2 separate regions of the Homo sapiens genome follow, and region 1 is linked to region 2. Evidence: fine-mapped expression QTL. A gene starts in region 2. The other region holds a variant in brackets. All regions are shown on one strand. Distances are from middle to middle.

Evidence for each region. PIP is the estimated chance that this variant, and not a neighbour inherited with it, causes the effect. A credible set is the group of variants that fine-mapping cannot tell apart.
Region 1: its variant is the best candidate, but not a certain one, in a credible set for the expression of GIHCG in nasal epithelium (TOPMed, PIP 0.71).

Annotation. Positions count from the first base shown.
Region 1 is chr12:57,971,963-57,984,028 of GRCh38, reverse strand. It overlaps the pseudogene RN7SKP65 and the pseudogene ST13P8. Among named protein-coding and RNA genes, the nearest start is that of ATP23, 36 kb to the right of the region's middle. The variant C/T (reference allele first, on the strand shown) is at 6,235.
Region 2 is chr12:57,929,862-57,941,927 of GRCh38, reverse strand. GIHCG (GIHCG inhibitor of miR-200b/200a/429 expression) reads left to right here and starts at 5,764. Exons shown (of 3, transcript NR_038269.1): 1 at 5,764-6,089; 2 at 6,375-6,458; 3 at 10,191-10,479. ATP23 (ATP23 metallopeptidase and ATP synthase assembly factor homolog) reads right to left here and starts at 361. Exons shown (of 6, transcript NM_033276.4): 1 at 40-361. The coding sequence starts at 226. RefSeq lists enhancers at 1-492, 5,338-5,838, 5,839-6,339.

The DNA.
Region 1 (12,066 bases), 42 kb before region 2:
TAATTTTCCCAGAAGAATACCTGGAATGGAGGGGGCATACCTAGGATGGCCAGAAGGCCTGGACCCAATGAAATTCTTAGTGATCCAGAGGTTCCTGCAGCCTTGCAGGATCCAGAAGTCATGGTGGCCTTCCAGGATGTGGCTCAGAACCCAGCAAATATGTCAAAATACCAGAGCAATCCAAAGGTTATGAATCTTATCAGTAAATTGTCAGCCAAATTTGGAGGTCAAGCCTAATGCCCTTCCGATAAATAAAGGCATTGCTGAAGGAAAAGCAACCTAGATCACCTTATGGATGATGCAGTAATACAAACCGGTGTACCTCTGACCTTCTCATCAAGAGAGCTGGAGTGCTTTGAAGATAATCCCTACCCCTCTCCCCCGAATGCAGCTGAAGCATTTTACGGTGGTTTGCCATTAGAGTATTCATTCAGATAATGTTTTCCTACTAGGAATTACAAACTTTAAACCCTTTTTAAACCTTAAAAATATGTAAAACAAATTTAAAGGGTCTGTTAATTCTTATATTTTTCTTTATTAATCATTTTGGATTTTTTTATTTGAATTATTGGGCAGGGAAAATACTTATGTATGGAAGATTATTGCTCTAATTTGAGTGAAATAAAAGTTTATTAGTGCGAGGCAAAAAAAAAAAAATGTTTAAGCCTCTTGTGATGCACAATTCATCAGTGATACATTAGTGCCCTCTGCTGCTGGCTGAGTTTTCCAACAGCTCAGAATTTCGGTATGGCTTTTCTTTTTCTCCTTTTTTTTTCCTCTCTCTCTCCTCTTCTTTTAAGAACATTGCAGTGTATTGTTTTGGTTCAACATTTTACACATAAATTAATAAAATTAGTAGAATGGTAATCAGGATGCATGGGATTATTTTAAATTATTATTGCTTGTGTTTCGACATCAACGCAAAGAAATTTCTTGATCAAAATTACTTAGAGATTTCATATTGAGCTGCAATCACGGAACACAGCATACATTATTGCTCCTTAATTGTAAAATATTCTATAAAAGGTAACTTATGTAGCTGGCCTGATAGCATATCATATAGGTTCCAATTTTTAATGATTATAAATATAATAATTTACCCCTCATTTTGCCTGGCTTATTTCTTAGGGTTGCCAGATTTAGCAAATAAAACTATGTCCCAGGTACTTTCATGGAACCTATTTCTACTAAATACTTATACTAAAAAATGCTAAATTCTTAGGTAAAAAAAAAATATTTACAGTTGATCTGAAATTCAAATTTAACTGGATTTCCTGTATCTTACCTAGTGACCTTATCTATTCTCATGTGTGCTCTGAATTTCATAATTGAAATTCTTTTCTGTTATGATAATCAGAGTTTATCCTACCGTAATAATGACTAAAACCAAACACATTTCTTTATTTTCTATTTCTTTCCTCACATTTTGTGAAACGCTGAGTAGGTTTTCACATAACAATGCTTAATGCACAAATTGACATAACAAGGTTTGTTAGTCATGAGATTAAAAGCATTTGTTCTTAAAAGAAGAGTTATTTAATTAATGGATGGATTAAGTAAGAACAATCCTGAATTCCTCAACTTCCTTTATGGAGCAACAAACATACTATATAAAAAGCATATAAAAATTCCGTTTTACGAATGGTAAGTTTGAAAGTGAGGCCACCCAGATGCAACATTATGCTAAAGCAGTGATTCTCAAGCTTGCACAGCTGAACTTGTGGAAGTTTTTTGGGATTTTGTGTGTTTGTTTTTGAGACAGATTCTCACTCTGTCACCCAGGCTGGAGTACAGTGGCACAATCACAGTTCACTGCAGCCCCGAACTCTTGGCCTCAAGCGATCCTCCCACATCAACTTCCCAAGTAGTTGGGACTAGGTGCACCACCATGCCTGGCTAATTTTATTTATTTATTTATTTATTTATTTATTTTAGAAACACGGTCTCACTATGTTGTCCAGGCTGGTCTCAAACTCCTGGCCTCAAGAGATCCTTCTGCCTCAGGCTCCAGAGTCGCTAGTATTACAGGTGTGAGCTACTGCGCCTGGCCAGAGAGTGCTTCTTGATTTTAATATACACATGAATGAAACAGATTGATCTAGCAGAATCTGGGCATTTCTAATTAGCAACTAGTTGATGCCATTGCTGCTAAGCCAAGGACCATACTTTGAGAAGAAAGATTTTAGAAGAGACCAAAAAAGAAAAAGCAATTTGTTTCAAAATGGAACTGTATAATGTCTGTGAGAATTGAAAATGCAGATTACTTACCACCACATTACTGCCAGAATGTAATGATAACTGCCACAGAAACGAAGGATGGGAGCGGAGATGAAAGAAAACGATTAATCGTCCTGTGGTGGTGTTCAGTGTGCCATCTTCAGTTCCTTTATCGTTTTCTGTCACAGTATCTCTCACTGGCAAAATGGAATTAATATTTGCTCCCTCACTACTTTTTCAGAATTTGAGAATTTGCATTAGATCATTTTATATGCAGCATCCCAAATATGCAGTAATTTAAAGCATACAAGTTTAGACCACATTAGAATTGAGTTCATAGTTTATTTCCATCAGACCTCTTTTAACCATTTTGGTCTGTTGGAGTTTAAGTAGCAAGATGCAGATTGTGCAACCATGTGGAGCTGATCAAATCAACCCCTGAAAGTGTAATTGGTAAATCTCTTCAAGTGCTTTTGAAAAATTAATCAAGACAGGTTTGGTGAACCTTTGCTGAGAGTGTCATTAGGACAAATGACTTGGTTCCCAATATATTATCATAAAGGAAAACTCCAGCTGCAAATCCCAAGGTGACCCATTTATCTCACTTGAATGGAAAATAATGACTTTTTAAGCACTGCAAATAATTCCGCTGGTTTAAAATCAATTTGGTTAATACAATTAAATAGAACTATTTGATCTTTCAGGTTCAAAAACCACCAACTTGACTCAGACATTAACATTTTAATATGGAAACAGCCACCATAATCTTCCAATGCCCTCAAAAATGGTTTATAGGGACACGTTGTAGAAAACAGTGCATATAACATTGTCTTTAAAATCTTTCCAGAATTAATAATATAAACTGGTATTGAGGTATTCTGCCTTAAGCATTCATATTTCACCTCAAAGCCAATGCCTTTTTTTTTTTCACACAGTCTCACTTTGTCACCCAGTCTGAAGTGCAGTGATGTGATCTCTGCTCACTGCAACCTCCATCTCCTGGGTTCAAGCGATTCTCCTGCCTCAGCCTCCTGAGTAGCTGGGACTACAGGCATGTGCCACCACACCCAGCTAATTTTTGTGGATTTTTTTTTTTAATACTTTAAGGACTGAGATACATGTGCAGAACATGCAGGTTTGTTACATAGGTATACACGTGCCATGGTGGTTTGCTGCACCCATCAACCCGTCATATACATTAGGTATTTCTCCTAATGCTATCCCTCCCCTAGCCCCCTACTCCCCAACAGGCCCTGGTGTGTGATGTTCCTCTACCTGTTGTGTTCTCATTGTTCAACTCCCACCTATGAGTGAGAACATTTGGTGTTTGGTTTTCTGTTCCAGTGTTAGTCTGCTGAGAATGATGGTTTCCAGCTTCATCCACGTCCCTGCAAAGGACATGAATTCATCCTTTTTTATGGATGCATAGTATTCCATGGTGCATATGTGCCACATTTTCTTTATCTAGTCTATCATTGATGTGCATTTGGGTTGGTTCCAAGTCTTTGCTATTCTGAATAATACTGCAATAAACATACATGTGCATGTGTCTTTATAGTAGAATGACTTATAATCCATTGGGTGTATACCCAGTAATGGGATTGCTAGGTCAAATGGTATTTCTGGTTCTAGATCCTTGAGGAATAGCCACACTGTCTTCGACAATGGTTGAACTAGTTTACACTCCAACCAACAGCGTAAAAACGTTCCTATTTCTCCACATCCTCTCCAGCATCTGTTGTTTCCTGACTTTTTAATGATCACCATTCTAACTGGCATGAGATAGTATCTGATTGTGGTTTTGATTTGCATTTCTCTAATGACCAGGGATGATGAGCTTTTTTTCATATGTTTATTGGCCACATAAATGTCTTCTTTTGAGAAGTGTCTGTTCATGTCTTTCTCCCACTTTTTGATGGGGTTGATTTTTTCTTGTAAATTTGTTTAAGTTCCTTGTAGATTCTGGATATTAGCCCTTTGTCAGATGGATAGATTGCAAAAATTTTTCTCCCATTCTGTAGGTTGCCTGTTCACTCTGATGATAGTTTCTTTTGCTGTGCAGAAGCTCTTTAGTTTAATTAGATCCCATTTGTCAATTTTGGCTTTTGTTGTAATTGCTTTTGGTGTTTTAGTCATGAAGTCTTTGCCCATGCCTATGTCCTGAATGGTATTGCCTAGGTTTTCTTCTAGGGTTTTTATGGTTTTAGGTCTTTCAATTAAGTCTTTAATCCATCTTGAGTTAATTTTTGTATAAGGTGTAAGGAAGGGGTCCAGTTTAAGTTTTCTGCCTATGGCTAGCCAGTTTTCCCAACACCATTTATTAAACAGGGAATCTTTCCCCATTGCTTGTTTTTGCCAGGTTTGTCAAAGATCAGATGGTTGTAGATGTGTGGTGTTATTTCTGAGGCCTCTCTTCTGTTCCATTGGTCTATATATCTGTTTTGGTACAAGTACCATGCTGTGTTGGTTACTGTAACCTTGTAGGAGCCTCGTAGTATAGTTTGAAGTCAGGTAGCACAATGGCTCCAGCTTTGTTCTTTTTGCTTAGGATTGTCTTGGCTATACAGGCCCTTTTTTGATTCCATAGGAAATTTAAAGTAGTTTTCTCCAATTCTGTGAAGAAAGTCAATGGTAGCTTGATGGAGATGGCATTGAATCTATAAATTACTTTGGACAGTATGGCCATTTTCATGATGTTGATTCTTCCTGTCCATGAGCATGGAATGTTTTTCCATTTGTTTGTGTCCACTCTTATTTCCTTGAGAAGCAGTTTGTAGTTCTCTTTGAAAAGGTCCTTCACATCCCTTGTAAGTTGTATTCCAAGGTATTTTATTCTCTTTGTAGAAATTGTGAGTGGGAGTTCACTCATGATTTGGCTCTCTGTTTGTCTATTACTGGTGTATAGGAATGCTTCTGATTTTTGCACATTGATTTTGTATCCTAAGACTTTGCTGAAGTTGCTTATCAGCTTAAGGAGATTTGGGGCTGAGATGATGGAGTTTTCTAAATATACAATCATGTCATCTGCAAACAAAGACAATTTGATTTCCTCTTTTCCTGTTTGAATGTCTCCATTTATTTAAATCTTCCTTTTGTAAGCAATTTTTAATATTTTTCTTTTTTCTTGTTTATTTATTTAAGACAGAGTCTTGCTCTGTTGCCCAGTTTCTTTCTCTTTATTTCTTTCTCTTGCCTGATTGTTCTGGCCAGAACTTCCAATACTATGTTGAATAGGAGTGGTGAGAGAGAGCATCCTTGTCTTGTGCCAGTTTTCAAAGGGAATGCTTCCAGCTTTTGCCCATTCAATGTGATATTGGCTGTGGGTTTGTCATAAATAGCTGTTATTATTTTGAGATACAGTCCATCAATACCTATTTTATTGAGAGTTTTTAGCATGAAGGGGTGCTGAATTTTTTCAAAGGTAGGCCTTTTCTGCATCTATTGAGATAATCATGTGGTTTTTGTCATTGGTTCTGTTTATGTGATGGATTACATTTATTGATTTGCATATGTTGAATCAGGCTTACATCCAAGGGATGAAGCTGACTTGATCTGGCTGTGACATCTGTCACCCTATTGATGGCCAGGGTTGATTTGGCTGATCTGGCTGGCTAGGCGGGTGTCCCCTTCCTCCCTCACTGCTCCATGTATATTAGCCCTTTGTGCACTCGGTCAAAGAGGATGACCATCCCTGATAGAGGAGGACTGCAGTCTTTGGTCAAGGGTATAGGAGTAGCTGCACTCCCTTGCTAGAACCTCCAAACAAGTTCTCAAAACAAAATTTTTAATTAGCCAGTTGTGGTGGCATACACCTCTCTCCCACCCACTCAAGAGGCTGAGGCAAGAGGATCACTTGAGCCCAAGAGTTCATGGTTACAGTGAGCTGTGATTGTACTGCCACATTCCAAACTGGGCAACAGAGCAAGACTCCGTCTTAAATAAATAAACAAGAAAAAAGAAAAATATTTAAAATTGCTAAAAAAAAAAAAGGAAGATTTAAATAAATTGAGACATATT[C/T]TATGTCCATTAATTTGAGTGTTCATAATTTGGAAGACTTGATACTGTTGAGAATTTTCCCCTAATTGATCTATAGCTTCAGTGCAATCCCATTCATAAATCTCAGCAGGCTTTTTCATAGAAATTGACAAGCTGATTCTAAAATGTGTATAGAAATGCAGAAGACCTAGAATGGTCAAAACAACCTTGTAAAAGAAAAACAAAGCTGAAGGACTTACACTTCTGACCTTAAGACTTACTATAAAGTAACCAAGACAGTGTATTACTGGCTTAAACATAAATAAATAGATCAGTAGAACCAAATATAAAATCTGGAAATAGACCCACACATACATAGTCCATTGATTTGCAACAGACACCAAAGCAATTCAATGAGGAAAGTATTTTCAGCAAATGGTTCTAGAACATCTGGACAGCTATAAGAAAAAGAGTAAACCTGAACTCTTACTTCACACCATAAACAAAAATGAATTTCATATAAATATTATAGACTCAAATATAAAAGCTAAAACTATAAAGCTCTTAGAATAAAATGTAAAAGACTATTTTCACAACTAGGAGTAGACAAAAATTTGTTAGGACACGGAAAGCAATAACCACAAAATGTTTTTAATTGGTAAATTAAACTTCAAAATTAAAGAACTCTGCTCATTGAAAATGTTAAGAACATGAATAGGCAAGCCACAGACTGGAAGAAAATATTCATGAAACATTTATCTGATTAAAAAAACTTTTAAGTGAAAATACAAAGGCTTTTTATAACTCAATAGTAAAAAGAAAAACAATCGAAGAAAAAATGGGCAAAATATTTGAACAGACACTTTTACAAAGGAAATTTATTTTAAAATTTAAAATTGTCTGATAAACACAACAAAATTGTTTAATATCATTAGTTATCAAAGAAGTGGAAATTGAAACTACAATAAGAAACCACTACACACCTACTAGAATGACTAAAATTAAAAAGACAACTGACAATATTTGTTAGAATATAAGAGAAAATAGAACTCACATACACTACTGGTAGGAATCTGAAATAACACAACCACTTTGGGAAAAGGTTTCTGTTTCATTTAAAGTTAAATATACATATATCTTTTGACTCTGCTATTCTATCATAGGTATTTTACTTATTTGTGGAAAGGAAAACATATCCACAAAAAGACTTGTACAAGAATGTTCTTAACAGCCTTATTTACAACACCTAAAACTAAAAACAACCCATTATATATAAACAGGAGGATGAATAAGCAAACTGTTTTATATTCATACCATGGGACATGTCTTAGCAATAAAAAGAGAATGAATTAATAATAAATGCAATAATAGCAATGAAACTCACAGACATGCTGGGCAAAAGAAACCTGATACAAAAGAAAATATATTTAATGATTCCATGTGTATGAAATTCTAGAACAGGAAAAACCAATCTATGGTGAAAAAAACTTAGAAGAGTGGTTAGCTGGATGGTGGGAAAGAGGGAAACTGAGAAAAAAGAGGAAGGAACTTTCTGGGGTGATGGGGTGTTCTAAATTTTATGATGTGGGTTACACAAATGTACATATTGTCCAAATTGTATAGTTATTATTTGGGTATCTCACTAGAGGTGAAATTTACCTTTAAAAAATGAATGTGATGTGGATAGTGGCTGAAAGTATAGATTAAACAAAAGGGCAGAATGTTGATAATTGTCAAACCTGAGTCATGGGTGCAAGGATATTTATTATTCTTGGTTTGCTTCGTAAATGTTTGAAATTTTCTACAATAGAGTTTGTTTAAACTGGTAGAAATGAATTAAAGGTTAATATGCACTGAATTCTAATTGCAATAATCTTCTATTTTAACTAAAACTGTATGAGAACTGGCATAACCGCACAGTTTTTGCTAGGCAGAAAATTGAGTGCTAAACAATTAAGAAACCATTGTTTTGTTCATTTGTGCCCTTGGGAGAAGGAAGAGCAGAGTGGAGAATGAAACAGAATAATGTTAGTCTGTAGCAATCAGACCATGCTATTTCAACTATTCACCTTCTCAAGAGGATAGTGATATTCAGCCAAGATATTACCAAACCTAGTTATTTGTTCATTAAACTCACTTCAGAGAAATGCCCTAAGTGTATAATTAATAAATGTTAATTTATATTAATGATAAGATTGCACTTGAATTTTTTAACTTTTTTCTGAATTTAAAATATTCGAGAAGCAAGAGCCAAGCATTCTGCTAATAAGCCTGCATTTTTCTTTCATTATTCTCTTTCTTCTTTCTCTTCCCTGCTGATTTCTACTTCTAACTTTTGCAATGCGAGTGTTACAGTCCCCAAGAGCTGAATTTGGTTCTATAGAAATTACCAAGTAGAATATCTGCAGTTTTATTGAACAACACTGTTTATTCAACAGGTACAGATGTTAAGTTAGAAGGAAAACAAAAATTGTGTGATGCCCTAAGTGGCAAGTGGCAGCTTCTCTGAGTGCTAACTGCATTCATGCTACCTCATAACCAAAGTGATCAAATACGAGGGGGGGGAAATTACAATGAGCCAAAAACACTCTCCTAACATAATGCTTCAGAGTCCCAGAGCAAAGGTCAAAGTGACACGCACACTCCAAATCTGGATCTGTAGGGTCAAAGCCATACCAGGCAGCCCACTAATGGGGCCACCTATTAGTAGGAAGCCCTGAGGAGCCTCAGAAGAGTCAAGGTGGCTGGACTCAGATCAGGGCTCACTAGGAAACTACAGCTCCCATTCATTCTCCCAACCACTGCATGAAAAGGGACTCAATCTGAAGAAAAAATAGACATTGTACCCATTCAATAAGTATTTATTAAACACTCACTGTCTACTATGTGCTGATGTAGGCACCAGGGATACAGGAAGGACCAACATGAGCTGAGTCTTTGTCACCATGGGGAACAGCTTCATCAAGGAGGAAGTGCAGGGTGATCTGGGGTATGTAATACAGCATATATTTGAGGATATATAACCTGTGTTGAGACCCAGGTTGGAGGCTCAAGAAAAAATGTCCAGAAAAAGTAACATTTAAACTGAAACCTGGAGTATGAGGAGGAGATAGCAAGTCAACTTACTATCTTAACTATTTTTAAGTGTACAGTTCAGTGGTATTAAGTACATTCATACTCTTGTGTAACCACCAGCACCCTCCATCTCCAGAACTCTTTTCATCTTTTAAAATTAAAACCTCATACCCATTAAACAATAACTCCCCATTCTCTTCTCTCCCAAGCTCTGAACCACCTTCTGTATCTAATATTTTGACTACTGTAAGTACCTCATATAAATGGAATCATAAAATATTTGTCCTTTTTTGTCTGGATTATTTTACTCAGTATAAAGACTTCAAGGTTCATCTATGTCATAGCATGTGTCAGAATTTCCTTCCTTTTTATACATAAATAATATTCCATTGTGTGGATATACCACATTTTGCTTATCCATGCATGCATCAATGGACACTTGAGTTGCCTCCATGTTTTAGCTATTGTGAATGCTGCTGCTGTGAACATGGTGCACAAATATGTCTTTGAGATCCCACTTTCAATTCTTGTGAGTAACACCCAGAAGTGGAATTTCAGGATCATATGGTAATTCTACTTTTAACTTTTTTCTTTCTCTTTTTTTCTTTATTAAGACTTTCAGATAAAACTATTTTTAACTCTTTGGGAAACCACTATGCTGTTTTCTATAGCAGTTGTATCATTTTACATTCCCACCAACCATCCACAAGGGCTCCAATTTCTCCACGTCCTTTTCAACACTTATTTTCTGTTTGTACTACTATTTTGGTAGTAGCCATCCTAGTAAGTATGAGGTGGTATCTCATAGTTTTAATTTGCTTGCATTTCCCTAATGATTAGTGATGTTGAGCATCTTTTCATGTGCTTATTGGTCATTTGTATATCTTCTTTGGAGAAATGTCTATTCAAGTCCTTTGCCCATTTTTGAATCAGGTTGTTTGGCATTTTCTTCTTGAGTCTTAAGGGTTATCTATATATTCTGGCCATTAATCTCATATTGGATACATGATTAGCAAATATTTTCTCCCATTCTGTGGGTTGTCTTTTTCATGAAGTCCAATTTGCCTGTTTTTTCTCTTGTTTCCTTATGCTTTTGGTTTCATATCCAAGCAATCATTGCCAAATCCAATTTCATGAAGCACTTCCCCTATGTTTTCCTCTAAGAATTTCATAATTTTAGCTCTTGTATTTAGGTAGCAGATCAATTTGGAGTTAATTTTGTATATGGTGTTAGCTAAGGATCCAACACTATTCTTTTGGATGTGGACATCCAGTATTTCCAATACCACTGGTTGAAAAGACTGTTTTTTCCTCAATTGAAGAGTCTTGGCACACTGTTGAAAATCATTTGACCATGTAAGTGAAGATATATTCCTGAACTCCCTAGTCTGTTTCATTGATCTGTATATGTGTCTTTATGCCACCACCACACTGTTTTGATTACTGTAGCTTTGTGGTAAGTTTTGAAATCAGGAAGTGGGAGTCCTCCAGCTTTGTTCTTTTACAGGGTTGTTTTGGCTATTTTGGTCCCTTGAGATTCCACGTTCATTTTATTTTAATTTTTTTTTTTTGAGACAAACTCTCACTCTGTTGCTGAGGCTGGAGTGCAATGGTGCGATCTTGGCTCACTGCAGCCTCGACCTCCAGAGCTGAAGCAATCCTTCTGCCTCAGCCTCCCAAAGTGTAGAGATTACAGGTATGAGCCACCATGCCATATTAATTTTAGAATGAGTTTTTCTATTTCTGCAAAAAAAATTGGAATTATGTAAGGGATTGCATTAAATACGTACAACACTTTGGGCAGTATTGACATCTTAATGTTATTAAGTTTGCCAACCCATGAGCATGGTGTCTTTCCATTTATTTACATCTTCTCTAATTTCTCTCAGAAATATTTTGTAGTTTTCATTGTTTTTTCACAAGTCTTTTACCTTCTTGTTTAATTCCTAAATAATTTATTCTTGTTGATACTATTTTAAATTGAATTATTTACTTAATCTCCTTTTCAGACTGGTTTTTGGGGTTTTTTGAGACAGAGTCTCACTCTGTTTTCCAGGCTGGAGTGCAATGACGTGATCATGGCTTACTGCAGCCCAACCAATGTTCCCACCTCATCCTCTCGGGTAGTTGGGATTACTGGCACACACCACCATACCCTGCTAATTTTAGTAATTTTTTGTACAGACAGGGTTTCACCATGTTGCCGAGGCTGGTCTTGAACTCCTGAGATTAAGTGATCCACCCATCTCAGCCTCCCAAAGTGCTTGGATTATAGGTGTGAGCCACAGTGTGCCCAGCCCAGACTGTTTATTATTAATTTATAAAAGTGCAGCTTTTTGTATGTTAACTTTGTATCCTACTACTTTGCTGAATTTATTTATTTGTTCTAATAGTTTCTTTGTAGAATCTTTAAGGTTTTCATATTATCTGTGAGCAGAAATACAAGACAATAGAAGATAAATATCATTTGTGAGCATAAACAATTTTAATTATTCCTTTCTGATTAGGATGCCTTTCATTAGATGCTTTTGTCTTACCTAATTGCTCTGGCTAAAACTTCTAGCACTATATTGAATAGAAGTAGTAAAAGTGGGCATCCTTACCTTGTTTTTGATCTTAGAGGAAACACTTTCAGTCTTTTACCATTGATTATGATGTTCTGTATGAGTTTTCATTAAGGCTTCTATTATGTTAAAGTAGTTTCTCTCTATTCCTAGCATGTTGAGTGTTTTTATCATGAAAGTGTGTTGAATTTTGTCATATGCCTTTTCTGCAATAATTGAAATGATGATGTGTTTC
Region 2 (12,066 bases):
CATTCTGTGGAACCACAGCCTCCAGGTCATGGCTCCTACTTGTCTCCAGCGTCTTCAGGAGCCTAAGCTGGCACTTCTGGTTGCTGGTGAAGAAGCTGGAGAAGAACCCTTGCTGGGGATTCCCCTGGGCCAGACGCTCGGGGAAGACCTGGCAAGAGACGTGTTGCTGCTGCAGCTGCTCCCCTGCCGCGGGGCCCCGCCGGCGCTCGTCCGGAGCTCCCGCCATGCCTCCCGCAGACCTCGCCGCTGCTTCCTCCTGGCTCAGGCGGCCAGAGCGAGACTGGGAAAGGTAACCTCCCTCCCGCCAACGCGACCGCCCAGGCCCTCCCTCCGCAGGGAAGAAGGGCAGCCTGGCTGGGCTGAAGACGTTAGGCGGGAGGGGGCTTTGAACCTGACGGGGAGCGCGGGAGGCGGGGCGAGAGGCGAGGGGCGGGGCGAGAGGCGAGGGGCGGGGCGAGGGATGAGGGGCGGGGCGAGGGCATGGGGCGGGGCGCGGGGCCCGATGCTGTTGGGCGGAGCTGGGTCTTGCGACTTCCCTCAAAGGCTGTAACAACCCGGCTGCCGCGGATTTCGCTGCTGCCCTCCCAGTGTGGGTGACATGTCTTTATAAGCGTTGTTCTGCAGCTTCCTGCTGCCTGCTGAGCTCTAAGGGTGTCCCGCCTCCTCGCAGACACTCCTTCCTCACCTCGGGGCGAATATTGGCCACTAACTGCTCTTGTGCCGCCGAAGGTCTCGGCCATCCTCCCACTCCCTGCCTTCTTCCGGGGCAAGCCAGTTGTCATTTCTGGCCCGCCACTTTCCCGACCCCTGCCATCCCTCAGATCCACTCTGCCCAAAGATGCCTCTGGCCATATTGAAAGCAGTGTTTTTCAGAAACGTTTTAAAACTATAAAGAATGACTAGTCACATCAAAATCCTCAAAATGTAGGAACCAACTACATTTTTTCTTCCCACCTGTACCCATTCGTTTACCCTACTCTTCTGCCCCACCCCCCACCAATAACTCCCTGATAACAAAGCGCACCCTGTTTACTTCTACCTCTCAGCCTTAACTCATACTGTCATTTCCATCTTTAAGCTCCTTGCCTCAGCCCCTATGATTGGGGCCCAGGTCAAATCTGCCTACTCCACAGGGCATTCCCAGATACCTTAATCAAAATTAATGTCTCCTGATCTCCCAATGTACAAAGCACTTTGTACCTGTTAATCATTTTCATCGTAGCCTGCCAGGTTTTATCCAATTTGTGTGTTTCTCTTTTCCTACTAAATTATTCCACTCAGCTCACACATTTATTCAGCACCTACTATGATGGGCCAGGCAAGGTGTAAGAGACTGAGGAAACACATGACTAAGAAAATTGCTAAAGATGAAGAGCAGCATGTGGTTTATGTAAGAAACATATCTGAAAAATATAGGCTCAGCAGGCCTTTAGGGTTATGAACAGTGCTTTATGTGTCATAGATGCTCAATATCTAAATTGAGTGGGATGCTAGGATAGTCATTCATCTGGAATATTATAAAAATACAAACAACTCCTATGTACATAGACTATTAAAGCCAGAAGTCAAAAAAAAAGTAACTACTTTTTAATTAAATTCACCTTGGATACATTATTTCCAATCCTCACTACAACCCTGCAAAGTAAGTATTATCTCTAATTTGCAGATAAAGTGGGCTCAGCAAAATTCAATAATTTATCTAGGACCACACAACTAGCTTTCAATCCAGTTATTGAACTAAAACACACATATGGAAAACTAAGCCATTACAATTCAGTGTGATTAGTTTGGAATACTGAAGGCAGGCTAGATATGCCTAGAAATGGACCATAGCCTATATACATTTGAAATACTATTTGGATTTTTTTCATGCTTTCTTTTTTAATACATAGATTCAGGTGGTTTATGTGTAGGTTTATTATACAGATATATTGTGTAGTGGTGAGGTCTGGGCTTCTAGTGTACCCATCACCCAAACAGTGAACATTGTACCCAATAGTTAATTTTTCAACCCTCACCCTTCCCCTCCCACTCTCCCCACTTTTGGAGTCCCCAGTGTCTATTATTCCCCTCTGTATGTCCACGTGCACTCAGTCTTTAGCTTCCACTTATAAGTGAGAACATGGGGTGTTTGATTTTCTGCTTCTGAGTTATTTCACTTAGGATAATGGCCCCCAGCTCCATCCATGTTGCTGCAAAAGACATGATTTCATTATTTTTATGGCTGCATAGTATTCCGTGGTGTATGCATAACCACATTTTCTTTAACCATCTGTTGGTGGACACTTAGGTTAATGGTTGATTCTATGTCTTTGTCTTTTTGTCATAACAATTTCTTCTTTTTTTTTTCTTTTTCAGAGACAGGTTCTTGCTCTGTCACCCAGGCTGGAGTGCAGTGGCGTAATCATAGCTCACCACAGCCTTGAATTCTTGGGCTTAAGCAATCCTACCACCTCAGTCTCTCGAGTAGCTAGAACTACTGGCATGCACCATCATGTCTGGTTAACTTTTTAATTTTTTGTAGAGATGGAGGTTTTTTGCTATATTGCTCAGGCTGGTCTCAAACTCCTGGCATCAAGTGATCCTCCTGCCTCAGCCTCCCAAAGCTCTAGGATTACAAGCATGAGCCACCACACCCAGTCACAATTTGTTTTCCTTTGGGTAGCCAGTAGTGAGATTGCTGGGTCAAATGGTAGTTCTATTTTTAGTTCTTTGAGAAATCTCCATACTAGTTTCCACAGAGGTTGTACTAATTTACATTCCCACCAACAGTGTATAGGCAATCTCTTTTTTCTGAATTCTCATCAATATCGGGTTGTTTTTTGACTTTTTAATAATAGTCATTCTGACTGGTGCAAGATGGTATCTCACCGTGGTTTTAATCTGCATTTCTCTGATGATTAGTGATGTTGAGAAGTTTATCATGTTTATTAGCCACTTGTATGTCTTCTTTTGAGAAATGTCTATTCCTGTCTTTTGCCCACTTTTGAATAGGGTTATTTAGTTTTTTCTGGTTGAGTTCCTTGTAGATTCTGGATATTAGTCCTTTGTTGGATGCACAGTTTGTAAATATGTTCTTCCATTCTGTAGGTTATTTGATTCTTTATCTTACTATGCAGAAGCTTTTTAGCTTAATGAAACTCATTTGTCTGTTTTTGTTTTTGTTGCATTTGCTTTTGAGGACTTGCTCATAAATTATTTGCCTAGGTCAATCTCCACAAGAGTTTTTCCTAGGTTTTCTTCTAGGGTTTTTATTGTTTCAGGTCTTAAATTTAACTCTAATTCATCTTGAGTTAATTTTGGTATATGGTGAAAGAAAGGGGTGCAGTTTCATTCCTCTGCATGTCTATCCACTTTGTGTAGCACCATTTATTAAATAGAGTGTCTTTTCCCATTATATGTTTTTGTTGTCATTGTCTAAGATCAGTTGGTTGTAGGTATGTGGCTTTATTTCTGGATACTATTTGCAATACCCTTCAGCTACAGGAATAAGTAAAAACGTACAAACCAAAAGCTGCAACATTTCCTTACTAAATTAGCTAAAACTGTTTCAATACTCATTGTTGAAGAAACAGATGGAAAAAAATTCATACCACAGTATCAATGGTTGTCTAGGTATTGGAATTTTTTTGTTACATTCTCCTGAAATTTTCTAATGTTCCTCAATAAGCATGTATTACCTTTATAATCAGAAAAATAAACTTTAAAAAATCAAGTGGGCTTTGGATGCCATGTGTAACTTCATCTGTATACAGTATAAAGACATAGGTATGGAATAAAAACACATTAAGGAAGAGATAATGAACAGCAAATACAAATGAGTTTTAAAAAGAAAAAGAATTACCACAAAGAAATTAGAGCAAGGGCAAAGATTTAGCTATAAGGATTTTCATTTCTCCATTGCAGCACTAATTGAGAGCAAAAATGGCCAGGCCAGTGGCATGTAATCATAGCTATTTGGGAGGCTAAGGCAGGAGGACTGCCTGAGCCCAGAAGTTCAAGACCAGCCTGTGTGATACAGCAAGACACCTCCTCCTCAAAAAAAAGGGGCGGCAGGGGAAGACATCAATTGTTTAAATATCCAACAAGAGGTATAATGGAATATATACAACCATGTTAAGTGTCTTTTTTAAACAAAATATGTTCATTAAAAGTTTTTGGGTGTTTTGTTTTGTTTTTTTGTTTTTTTGTTTTTTGAGCCAGAGTCTTGCTCTGTCGCCCAGGCTGGAGTGCAGTGGCGCCATCCCGGCTCACTGCAACCTCTGCCTCCTGGGTTCAAGCAATTCTCCTGCCTCAGTGAGCTGGGATCGCGCCACTGCACTCCAGCCTGGGCGACAGAGCAAGACAACAGCTCAAAAAAAAAAAAAATTCAGGCTGGGCGCGGGTGGCTCATGCCTGTAATCCCAGCACTTTGGGAGACCGAGGAAGGCAGATCACTTGGGATGAGGAGTTCGAGACCAGCCTGACCAACATGGTGAAACCTCATCTCTACTAAAAATACAAAAATTAGCTGGGTGTGGTGGCGCCGCCTATAATCCCAAGCTACTCAGGAGACTGAGGCAGGAGAATTGCTTGAGCCCAGGTGGTGGAGAGGTTGCAGTAAGCCGAGATCGGGCCACTACACTGCAGCCTGGGCAACACAGTAACTTTGTCTCAAAAAAAAAAAAGTTTTTTAAGTTCCAAACTAGCATATACAGTATGATTCCATTTTGAATTTGTACTTACTATAATTCATAGAAAGGGTCTGGAAGACTCCTACAAAGTATTCACATTGGTTGTCCTTAAATGGGTAGGATTTGGAGGTTTTGTGTTTTGGGGGTTTTTTTGGCCTTCATTTTCTAAAGCAAAAATAATTGCTTTTTTAATGGGAACTAAATTATTTAAAATTGTATAAATCTATCACAGTAACAAATAAATTACATATAATTGTAAAGAGTTTACCACCTGTCAGCTGTGAAAGTTGATCATATAAATCGGGTCACTTTTGTCATACCAGTTAAAGAGTGGAGAGGCCAGAGGGAAAAAACATTCAGGTCACAAATATCACTTGAAAAATATAATTCTCTACAGGCCTGGCTGCTGAAACTGCCTGCTAACACTTAAAACCAATTTAATCTAAAGGCTACTAAGACAGTCTGCTACAATTCTAAGACTAATTTTACCCACCACCGTCACTCAGCAATCAGTTTGCCAACCCCACCAAAACATTAATAGTGCCAATAAACTCTCTTGGAGACCAATACGTAACATTTCTCCTTCTTATAAAGTCTCTAACCTCTTCACTCTTCAGACATCCCGAAGACCACCCCAGTCTACATATATGCCCCAAATTACTATTTTCTTCCCAAATAAAGCATTCTAATTTCAAAGATTCATCTCTATATTCTGACTTAACAGCTTTTAACACTTAATGCTGTTTTTTAGTTGACAAATAAAAATTATATTTATAGTATAAAACATGTTTTGAAATATATATACATTGTGGAATGGTTAAATAAAGCTAACATGTACCCTTCGGCTTTTTAAAAACTAACGTCCAATTCATCCAATTCCGTGAGAGTAAAGCCTTTGCTTAGCTTTCCAGTCCTGTTAAACGGGGGGGAAACAACAAAAGGGTCCTCAGGGCCCTGCCCAACAATACGCCACATTCTGTCTAGTAAAGCCACACAGCCAGAAAACGCCAGGTGACTGGCAGGCAGATACTTCCGGAAGAAGTCGGCCCTCCGAACCCGGAAGTGAAGCGATAAGACGCACGGTGTTCTGGGAGGAGTTACGCAGGCAGGGTTGTGGTTGCTGGCTGTTACCAGGACAACCGGAGGCGATTGACCGTTATCTGCGGTTTGGAGCCGTTAGCGGGAGAGGCAGAGATATTCAGAGGTCTTTTAGGATGCGCTAAAGGGTCGTGAGGGCTCTCTTAAAATTTTCTTCACAAGCGGTTATCCAGTCGTGCCCCGCGGCCCTGCTGCTGGCCCCGGGGATCTGAGTCGTACCCTCTTGTTTTTCTCTGAGTCAGTCTTAAGGTGAAATGAAGTGTGGCCCAGTGGCTCCTCACTGTCGCTTCTCTAGTTTTCTGCCTCCTTTTAGAAAATGTAAGTTGAGAATTTCTAATTTACATCGGGATGTGTTCTAATGCGCTTGTTTTTAAAACTGTGGAAAATTTTTAAAAGAAAATAAATCTCACCAGTCATCCAGCTACCCAGAAGTAACATTTTCATGCATTACCTATTAATTTTTTTCTCTGCATATTTTTTCATAGTTGAGATAATTTAGGGAAAACCATTTTGTGTCCTTCATATATGGATGAATACAATATAATTTTGGTATTAATATCATAGCAACAAAGAAGGCATTGAAGGCTTTAAATCTGTTTACAGTGAATTGAAAAGACAGGATGAAGTGGACACAGCATGTGAAGACAATTCTTTCAAGAAGTTTGGCTGTCAAGGAAAACAGAGAATGTGAGTAGCCAAAGCAGAATGACAGTGAAAGAAAGAAATTGGGAGCCAGACAATACAGCCCGACAGTTTACGCCTGTACGGATGTACCTCTTTCACAAAAGATTGAGTATGCTTGGGGAAAAAAAATACACACTATAATAGGAGAAAATGATGAAGAGAAACTGAGGTAAAGGTAATTGGAAAACAAAATAAAGCCAGGGGTATATTAATACCCCAAAACTTCATACCAAAAGGTCCGTGTATTTACTAGAGGGGTGCCACAAATTGGGCTCTGAGGTTCCTAGCAATTAAACCAAAGGGAAAATATAAGTTTAACATGATCCGTATGAGGGAGGAGGCCTAATGGCATATTATAGAATCCTGTTACACATTAGCTGTATGAAATTGATTGGGTAATGTAAGCTCTTTAGACCTCATTTCTCCGTCTCTTAAAGAGTGGGGAGAGGAAGCAGGAGACTGTTAGACGAGTTGATCTTTTAATATCTCTTCCACTACTGACAGTCTATGATCATATAGGCCAGAGACGGCAAACTCAGATGCCTAAATTAGGGACTAAGAAAGTTTCATAAGTGAGGAAATGGACTGAATGTGACAAAAGCAAGGAGTGATAGAGATTGGAATGTTAGAGTTGATTGAGCTGTCCCATCTAAAACTCCAGCCAATTCTTGCAAAAATAAGGACTCAGTGTTGCCTGATTTTTCAGGAGAAACAGGAAAATCATATTTTTGATAATATTATACAAAACAAAACACCTCTACTAGCTAGATACAATTTGTGGGTCACTAATTTTCAACCTCTGCTATAGGTGAAAGGACCTCAACAAGAGGGATAATTGCTTGAATTAAAGAATTAAATATGAAAAAGAGGAAGAAGTCAAAAAGAATACCAAGATTTCCCCTTGGTAATAAGAAGGAGTTAGTAACATTGATACTAAAATCAGCAGAAGGTTTGGGGAGAGAAGGTGCTTTATTGTGAGTTTCTTGAACATGGGGCAAACTTATTTATGTGTATCCATAGCACATGAATCCAATTCAGCTGCTGGATTTGAGAAATCTGTGGGATTTATCAGGGGAAAGGGCGCAGGAATGTAGGTCAGGAGTTTGGGGAAAGAAGATGAAAAAGGAGTTTAAGATGTAAGATTCATTCTTTCAATAAAGTTTTATTGATTATATATCACAATATGTATTTTCACGAGACTCTAAACTGTCTGAGGGCAGAAAGCACGGGGTTTTTTTTAACCACTTACCCAGCTCCTAGCACAATACATAGTCAGTGCTTATGTATGTTGAAAAAACAAATGAAAAAATACAAAACACTGTGCTTTACAGTATAGGAGATGCAGAGTTGAATTAGAAAATCTTAAGGGAACAAGAAACACTGGGGTCTGCTTGAGGGTGGAGGGTGGGAGCATGCAGAGGAGCAGAAAAAATAACTATTGGGTACTAGGCTTAATACGTGGGTGATGAAATAATCTTTACAACAAACCTTCATGTGTACCCCCAAACCTAAAATAAAAGTTTAAAAAGAAGAAAATCTTCTTAAAGAAGTTTATAGAGCAGGGGCCCCATCTCCTTAAAAAAAAAAAAAAAGAAAAAGGAAAAGCGACTTTATAGGCCAGAAAGTAAGACAAGTCTTAACACATAAGGAGCTAATGCAAGTTTTAAAGTAGTGCCATTAAAAAAAAAAAAGTACCATGGGATTCAGAAGGGAAAGATCTTTTTAGAAGAAGTTAAGAAGTTAAGCTCTGTCTTTCTAGATAGTGGACAGTTAGGATTAGATCACACAGGTGTTGGGAGAGGAACTGATCAGAAGCAGTTAAATAGAAGATGTAGGCTGGGTGTGGTGGCTCACACCTGTAATCCCAGCACTTTGGGAGGCTGAGGTACGTGGATCACTTGAGGTCAGGAGTTTGAGACCAGCCTGGCCAACATGACAAAACCCCGTCTCTACCAAAAATACAAAAATTAGCCGGGTGTGGTGGCGCACACCTGTAATCCCAGCTACATGGGAGGCTGAAGCAAGAGAATCACTTGAGCAGGGGAGGCAGCCACTGCCCTCCAGCCCGGGCAGCAGAGTGAGACTCTTGTCTCAAAAAAAAAAAAAAAAAAAAAAGTGTATACCCTTCTTTTGAAAGTATTTGAAACTGCCAAAAAAAAAAAAAAAAGAGTGAATAGTGAAACAGTTTGAAGCCAGAACCTTGAGAATCACCCACATATAAAGAAGGTGAAGAAGAAAAACCAACAAAGTAAACAGAGAAAAAGTCATCAGAAAGCTAAGAGAAACATCAGGAGAGTGGGTTTCATAGGAACTAAGATTCCGGGTTTCAAGAAGGAAAGTTCTGTCAATATTGTCAAATACTACAGAGACAGCAAGCCATCAAGGAGGGTCCAAGTTCATTGGATTTGATGATTAAGGAAATCACTGATGACTTTAAACAATTGGCCAATGAATATAAGAAGAGGAGGTATAAAAAGCAGTAGAATTGAAAGGCTTGTTGATTTGTTTAGGGAGGTGGGGAATGGGGTTCCTTAGGAGCAGGGGAAAAAAATAAAAGACAAGATTAAGCTGCAAAACAGGACAAATTTATGAAGCAAGATTTTGGAGAATCTAAGCAGTGATGAGATCAAGAAATGGAGGAAGAGTAACATCAAGAATAAGCATTATAATTCTAACAAATATTGTTCAATTACAAGTAACTTTTTAATGTCTATCATCATGTTTTCTTGCCCAATGGCCTGGTTTCTTTTCACCTTTAGCCCTAAAATAACTTCATAATCTAAAAAATAGTATTAGAACTTCAACTTAGTAATATTTCCTAATGTTGCTTTTAAATCCTCTTTTTATAAACAGGTATTATCAGCAGGGCGTGGTGGCTCACACCTATAATCCCAGCACTTTGGGAGGCCAAGGCAGCCAGATCACCTAAGGTCAGGAGTTCAAGACCAGCCTAGCCAACATGGTGAAACCCTGTCTCTACTAAAAATATAAAAATTAGCTGAGTGTGGTGATGGGCGCTTGTAATCCCAGCTACTCAGGAGGCTGAGGCAGGAGAATCACTTGAACCCAGGAAGCAGAGGTTGCAGTGAGCCGAGATCGCACCTCTGCACTCCCACCTGGACAACAGAGCGAGACTCCATCTAATAAATAAATACATAAATAGGTATTATGGTGTATAATTCCTGATTTTTCGGTTGCTCCACATCCCTTTCAGGAAACCACCACTCACCAGCCTTAGCTGGTTCAAGTGAGGCTGATTCCCAACTGCCCACACTGCCCCCATTCCTACACTTGATTCAGACCTGACCAATGAGAACCATCATTGGTACTTTTGCTGGTACTATTTATTTATATATATATATTTTTTTTGAGATGGAGTTTCGCTCTTGTTGCCCAGGCTGGAGTGCAATGGCGCAATCTTGGCTCACCACAATCTCGGCTCACCACAACCTCCACCTCCCAGGTTCAAATGATTCTCCTGCCTCAGCCTCCCAAGTAGCTGAGATTACAGGCATGCACCACCACATCCAGCTAATTTTTTTTTTTAGTAAAGACAGGGTTAATCCATGTTGGTCAGGCTGGTCTCGAACTCCCAACCTCAGGTGAACCACCCACCTCAGCCTCCCAAAGTGCTGGGATTACAGGCGTGAGCCACCGCACCTGGCCTGCTGGCACTATTAAAAAAAAAAAAAAAAAAAAAAAAAAAAAAACTCTCCCTCTGATGTTATATTGCAGGTGCTAAAGAACATACAGACACAGAGCAGACAGGCCACCTTTGCAACCACATGGAGGTTTGTCTGATATTGAAGCTAAAGAAGCTAAGCTGGAAGACAGAGAGACCAAGTCCTGATGACATTGTTTGAACCCAGAGATCCAGACATGCCTGAAAACTAGTTTTACCACTGGACTTATCCGTTGAATGAGCCAATAAACTCTCTTTTATACTTAACCTTGGGTTTTACCTGGATTTTTGTCATTGACAGCTCAAAATATTCTAATATAGAAGTATACATCATTAAATCAACATTTCTTTTTTTCTCTGTCTTATTTTAAATGTAACTCTATAAGGTACTCTAAAAGTATTCTACAGTCTCACTAAGTTAATCTGCAAATTTGGTAAAATTCCAATATTAATCCCAAAAGTATTTTAAGAGCTTGTTTTTGTTGTTTGCTTGTTTGGGACTAAACAGAATTACTCCAAAATTCATTGAGAGAAAAAAAAACATGAAAAAAAAAACAAGAAAATAGAATTCATAAAAGGAAATTGTATTATATAACAAAGCATAAAACAAGAATAATAAACATAGAGTGGTAATGGAATAAATAAACAGTCATGGAACAGAATTCAAAGCCTGAATATATCTAAGAGCACTTACCAAATTTAATATGTGGTACATCAAGAAAAGATTAATCCAGTAAAGTATATAAGTACATTGAGCTAGATTTAGAGGAGAAAGATAATTAGATCGTTACCTTATTCCCAGAATAAATTTCAAATGGATTTGTGACTTAAGTGTAAAAATTGAAGCCAGATTCTCAATATACATTGATTGGCATATAATTGGCACAGTCTTTAGCAATATCAATTAAATGTTAAATATTAATAACAACACAGCCTTTCAATTCTAGAAATATATCCTACAGAAACAAAATATATGTATAAATATAGATAATGCAGTATTGGAATATCAAAAGTAGTACACATATGAAATAGGATATGGAATACCTATATCATGAATTCACGGGGTGGCAACATCGCAACAAGGAGGTGAAAATTGATTCTTGAGGGAAATTTTTTTTTCTAAAGCATAGATATGTGTGTAAAGCACATAAACAAATATACAGTATATATGTGGTATTGAAACTTCATGGGAGAGTAATAATTAAGAAAAAAATGTCTACACTGGGTGCAGTGGCTCATGCCTGTTATCCCAACACTTCGAAAGGCCAAGGTGGGTGGATCATGAGGTCAGGAGTTCAAGACCAGCCTGGCCAAGATGGTGAACCCGCAACTGTACTAAAAATACAAAAATTAGCCGGGCATGGTGGCAGGCGCTTGTAATCCCAGCTACTCAGGAGGCTGAGGCAGGAGAATCGCTTGAACCTGGGAGGTAGAGGTTGCAGTGATCCAAAATCACGCAACTGCACTCCAGCCTGGGTGACAAAGTAAGACTCCATCTCAAAAAAGAAAAAAGAAAAAAGTCTAAAAGGCTGAGAAAAACTGTGGTATACAATTCAATACCATGTTAAAAAGAATGAGGTAGACTTGTATGTTGACAAAAGAGGATGTCCCAAGATGCATTGCTTTTAAAAAACAAGTTGTAAAATAATATGCATAATATGGTTCCTTTTTTAATGATTAATATATGTTGATACAAATGAAAAAGTATTGATGGTGTTTTTCTCTGGGGTTAAAATTAATGTTTAATTCTATATTAAGTAGAGGGGTCCAGCCAGAGGAGGGTCGGAACAGGGGCCCCTTACTTGGTGTAAGTACTACAATATAATTCCCACAGTCTGAGTTTTGCAGATCAAATCCCCAAGGTGTCATTAAATAAGAGTTTTTTATTCCCTCTATTTCCTATAAATTGATGTTTAGATCTAGGAGCCT